Linked DNA regions of Homo sapiens: region 2 is linked to region 1. The links come from fine-mapping of genetic effects on gene expression. A gene starts in region 1. The other region holds a variant in brackets. All regions are shown on one strand. Distances are from middle to middle. Region 1 holds the start of SHQ1 (SHQ1, H/ACA ribonucleoprotein assembly factor). Region 2 holds the start of LOC105377161 (a long non-coding RNA gene).

Region 1 (2,913 bases):
CACGGCAACGGGTAAATAATAAAGCCTCGTTGTAACACTGTCCTAATAACAAATGAGATAATCCGTATAAAGCACTAACCTGGAGTAAAAATTCAATAAATATTTGCTACCACCATAATCTTCTTCCTATTCTTCACATCTTGGCTTAAATATCGCCTCCCCAGAAAGGCTTTTCCTGACCACTTTATAAAACATGGGCCCTTTTTCATTCTCTATTAGTGCACTTCTTTCTCCTCATAGCACTCACCACAATTAAGTACACTGTTTATTGTTTTCCTCTCCCCAGTGAAAAGTACATGAGGGCAGGACTTTGTCTTGTTCAGCACAATAATACCAACACTGAAACTCAATAAATAAATTAAAGAAATAAGTGAATTAAAAAACTGGAAAGTGCAATAATTCAAATACGGACGTTATATGGTCTAAGGGAAATCTGAGCAAAACTGGTTCAGCAACAGTGAAAAAACCACCTTGACTGGTGGAGAAGGTTTGTACCACAAAAGTACTTGGGTGGGAAAAGTAGGATGCAGCTACACTTCAGAAAGATTAGGAGGATGGATAAAGAGAAGGACAAGAGATTGGCAATACTTTAGGATGAATATGTAGCAGCGGGTTCTGTGGAATGGGGTTAATAGCAGTGCTTATCCCTAAGGATCACCGTCAAAGTTAAATGAGATACACCATCATAAAGCACTTAACGGAACTGCTTGTCCACCACACTACGAGTTATCAGTGTTAGCTGCTACCAAGGTTACGATTCTGCAAGGAGAATAATTTAAACAGATCAAGTGCTGACAGACCCTCACGGAGACTTGGGGGAAACAACCACACTTCAGGGACAAAACCAAACAGAAGAGCAGCAGACAGCAGGGAAGCAGGAGAACTAGGCTAATTTGGTGTCAAGAGGTCCAAAAAAGGTAAGAATTTCGGTAAGTAGGGAGCGGACAGACAAGAGATAGATCAACAGAAGGCGGCCTGGGCAAAGTTAAAAGGACCGACGGGTTGGGAAGTCACGGAGATGTCAGCGCGCGCCGTTCCCAGGAAGGGAGAGACTGGGAGAGCAAACGCGGAGTGAAAGGAAAGAACAGAACAAGTCAGAACGGGACGAGAACTAGGGCGACAGGGCAGAAACGGGAAAGTGACACGGTCCAAACGTCACTTTTTCAAGTGATTCCGCAATCCTTTGATATGGGATTTAAGAAAGCTCAAGAAGGAAAAGGGCTTCCGCAGCATCTAAAACGCACCCCTGGAAGAGGGCAGTTCCCTGGCACCAAGAGAAGCTGCGGAAACGTCGGGAAAAGGCATTCGCGCAATCGAGCACTGCTCTCTCGACCTTGCATTCTCCCTCTAAAGCAGCTATCTAACGAATGCGCCTTTCCTGCGGCCAGGCACCCCGAACTCGCCTGAGAAAGTATGGCTTGGCGTAGAACTTGAAGTCAGACCCCTCGAAGTAGACGTCGAACTCGGAGACCCGGGCGTAGGGCACGCGGATGGCGATAGTCAGGAAGTCCGGATCCTGGCTGAGGTCGAACGCCGGGGTCAGCATCGCCGCACCGGACGCAAGGGCCGGCGCCGCTCGCTCTCACTGCCGCCGCGTTCCCGCCACGCAAACTCTCCAACTCCCCACGCGCAGGAACTCTCGGTGTGAGGGACGGAGCTTCCGGCTCGAGGCGGAAGTGCTCGCGCGTAAGGCAGGAAGTCTCTCCCCACGCCAATCTCCATGGAGACGGGACGCCGTTCGAGAAGAGGCGGAACTTTCAAAACCCCCGGGCGGAGAAAGGGCGTGGCGAGTGGTGCCTGGGAGCCGGCGTTGAACCGGCGGGATGACTAGCAACCGAGCCTTTTTCGAGGTTCTTAGAGATGATTTTAACAGCACTGGCTTGACAGGTAAACAGACGTGCGTTTGAATCCCTTCCTGGCCACAACTTCTCAGCTGTAAGACCTTGGGAAAGTTACAAAACCTCTCTATATCTTCTGTAAAACGCGGATAATGCGAGAACCTAGCCCCATAGAAATGCTGTGAGGGTAGCATGAAATTGTGCATGTAGAACTCTAATAACGAACTTGGCAAGTTGTCAACGCTTGATGTGCTGAAGTAGTCACCGCAGTAGCCACAGCAGCACCGTTACAGTGGTTTCCCTTAGTTCTCACCTGCCTTGTGAACAATTCCTCTTACACTTTCCCTTTCCTCCCTCTCTCTTTCCACTTCTCTTTTTCTGCAGCTTTCTCTCTCATTCTTAACGGCTTATTTGAAGAGTTTTCTCTTTAACAGAGCGTCCGTCCCGCTAATCTCATCTAATCTACGCTGCAAACTCTAAAGAAAACGGCTCAGAGAGGTTAATCAGTACGTTTTATAACCATGCATTTTACAGTAATTAGAACTCAGAACGTTTGACTCTTAAACCGTGTCGGTGACTGCATTCACAAATTAAGGTCCCTCTGTATTCCCCTTCTTTCCTTTTTCTCACTCTTGTCCTTACACTTGTCTGAGGACATCTTTTCTGTCTTTTTTTCTACTTGTCTTCCTTGTATTTTCTCCCTTTGGAGTGTGCCCCTTACACTCTCTCAGTGCCTCTCCCGCTGGTTTCCCTCTTCCCCCACATATTCCCTTGGCCTTTCCACACATGTTGTTTCCTGTTATTCCACCACTAATTAGAATAATCCAGTTGTGGTATTTATTCCGTGGTTTTAAGTATCAGTGGAAAAGGGATGAAAAGTACTCTCCTAGGACAGTGGAGATAACCAGAAAACTTCAAAAGTCTTTTCAATCTCCAGCTGTTTTATGATTCTAAGGAGACATTCTTGAAACTTCATTAGGACTCAGAAAAAAAATTAATAGTAACAGGGGCTAACATTAACTGAATATTTACTATGTGCCAGCACTGCAGCAAACCCTTTGTAATGATCTCATTC
Region 2 (2,913 bases), 130 kb before region 1:
CTACAGAGGCAGGCAGGCCTCCTTGAGCTGCGGTGGGCTCCACCCAGTTCGAGCTTCCTGGCCACTTTGTTTACCTACTCAAGCCTCAGCAATAGTGGGCGCCCCTCCCCAAGCCTCACTGCCGCCTTGCAGTTCGAACTCAGACTGCTGTGCTAGCAATGAGCAAGGCTCCATGGGCGTGGGACCCTCCAAGCCAGGCGCGGGATATAATCTCCTGGTGTGCCATTTGCTGAGACCATTGGAAAAGTGCAGTATTAGGGTGAGAGTGACCCGATTTTCCAGGTGCCGTCTGTAACCCCTTCCCTTGGCTAGGAAAGGGAATTCCCTGACCCCTTGCACTTCCTGGGTGAGGCGATGCCTCACCCTGCTTTGGCTCACACTCAGTGGGCTGCACCCACTGTCCTGCCCCCACTGTCCAATGAGACCCAGTGAGATGAACCCAGTACCTCAGTTGGAAATGCAGAAATCACCCGTCTTCTGCGTTGCTCATGCTGGGAGCTATAGACTGGAGCTGTTCCTATTCGGCCATCTTGGAACCGCAGAGATGGGGTTTCACCACGTTGCCCAGGCTGGTCTCAAACTCCTGACCTCAGGTGATCTGCCTGCCTTGGCCTCCCAAAGTACTGGGATTACAGGTATGAGCCACTGCGCCTGGCCTCTTACTCTTTAACATAAGCAAAAATATCAACCAACATTCGTATCCAAACTGCACTCACTCATGATTTGCAACTATTGGTTGGCTACTGATATGGGAGTTGAGCAAAGTCTATAAAAGTATTTTGTGAAAATCAACTGGCTGTGTGGAATTTATAAGAAAGACTTTTGCACATTTTATTATTCTCAAATTGTTTACTCAGTAAAATTTCTTAAAAATATATGCAAGAGCATATGTAGCTTTTCTGAAGCAGCATTTATTAAACATTTACTGGCACACCATTGCATTAAACTCTCCCCATTTGAGGAGATTGGGCCCCAGAGGGTAGACATGCCCGCCCAAGACATGGGCGGATCCATGACCCCCACCCTGCTCCTCCCACCCCATCAAGGCTACTTCTGCCATCTAATACCAGCCCTTCCAGGGGGGATTGTAAAAGGATGGCCCAGTGAGACAGGAAAATTCTCTGGGGTTCAACCATTTACAATTATTCCTGAAACCGTCTGGGTGCCATACAAATAGCTAAGCCATAAATCATAAGAGGTGCATAAAATCATATGAAGTTAAACATACAGCTAAACAAAATCCAGCAATTTCATTTCTAGGTATTTACCCAAGAGAAATAAAAACATATGTGCCCACAAAACTTACATATGAATGCTCATAGCAGATTTATTCCCAATATCCCCAAACTGGAAACAACCCAAATGTCCATCAAAAGGCACTGGATAAACAAACTGTGATATATTCCACATAATAGAATACTACTCAGCAATAAAAATGAATGGACCATTGATCCACAGAAAAATATGGATGAATTTCAAATAATTATGCTGAGTAAAAGAGCCAAACATAAATGAGTGCATGCTGTGTGATTCCACTTTATATAACATTCTAGAAAAGCCAAACATTGAAGGACAGAAACCAGGTTAGTATTTGCTGGGTACTGGAAGGGACAGACTGCTAAGTGGCAGAGGGGAGGGAATTGTTGGAG[G/A]ATGGAAAGGCTACATATCTTGAGTTTGGTGAGGATTCCACAGGTGTACCCACTTGCCAAAACTGTGCTTGAACATGAGTGCATTTTATTATATGAAAGCTATACCTCACCAAAGCTGATTTTAAAAGTACTAGGTATGTAACCTTGGTCAAGTTATTCTGCTTTCCTGGGCCTCAGTTTCCTCATCTGTAAAATGTAATAATAGTTGCTATACTGTGAAGATTAAAGAAGAGACTATGGGTAAACCCTTAGAACAATGCCTCACACACAGGTGTGTACAATTAATACAGCAGTGCCCCCTTATCCAGGAGAATATGTTCCAAGACCCTCAGTGCATGCCTGAAACTTCAGATAGTTCTTTTTTCTTTTCTTTTCTTTTCTTTTCTTTTCTTTTCTTTTTTTTTTTTTTTTTTGAGACGGAGTCTCACTCTGTCACCCAGGCTGGAGTGCAGTGGCACAATCTTGGCTCACTGCAACCTCCGCCTCCCAGGTTCAAGTGATTCTCCTGCCTCAGCCTCGTAGATAGGATTACAGCTGTGTGCCATCACACCCAGCTAACTTTTGTATTTTTAGTAGAGATGGCGTTTTACCATGTTGCCTAAGCTGGTCTCAAACTCCTGACCTCAGGTATCCACCTGCCTCAGCCTCCCAAAGTACTGGGTTTACAGGTGTGCGTCACTGTGCCCATCCAACTTCAGTTAGTTCTTTTTTTTTTTTTTTTTTTTTTGTATTTTTAGTAGAGACAGGGTTTCACCGTGTTAACAAGGATGGTCTCGATCTCCTGACCTCTTGATCCATCTGCCTCGGCCTCCCAAAGTGCTGGGATTAAAGACTTGAGCCACTGCGCCCGGCCTAACTTCAGTTAGTTCTAAACCCTGCATATACACTATGTTCTTTCCCTTATATATATATATACCTATGATTAAGTTTATAAATTAGGCACAGTAAGAGATTAGCAACAATAATAATAAATAAATAATAAAATAAATAATAATAAAATCAAACGATTATAGCAATATGCTATAATAAAAGTTATGTGAATGTGGTCTTTCTATCTCAAATATCTTATTTTACTGTAGTCACCTGTTTTCAGACTGCAGTCGATTGAAAGTAACTAAAATCTCCGAAAGCAAAACCATGGATAAAAGGAAACTATTGTACTAGTTTACGTTGCTTGTTGGTTTTTGTTAAACTATAACTAATCCAGTAACAGGTATTCATTCATGCAATAAATCAACAAATATTTATTAAGCACCTACTACAT

Evidence for each region. PIP is the estimated chance that this variant, and not a neighbour inherited with it, causes the effect.
Region 2: its variant is fine-mapped to the expression of SHQ1 in whole blood (INTERVAL, PIP above 0.99).

Annotation. Positions count from the first base shown.
Region 1 is chr3:72,846,795-72,849,707 of GRCh38, forward strand. It overlaps SHQ1 (SHQ1, H/ACA ribonucleoprotein assembly factor), which reads right to left and starts at 1,651. Exons shown (of 11, transcript NM_018130.3): 1 at 1,404-1,651. The coding sequence starts at 1,546. RefSeq lists an enhancer at 1,870-1,969.
Region 2 is chr3:72,715,954-72,718,866 of GRCh38, forward strand. It overlaps LOC105377161 (a long non-coding RNA gene), which reads right to left and starts at 488. Exons shown (of 11, transcript XR_940962.3): 1 at 447-488. The variant G/A (reference allele first, on the strand shown) is at 1,650.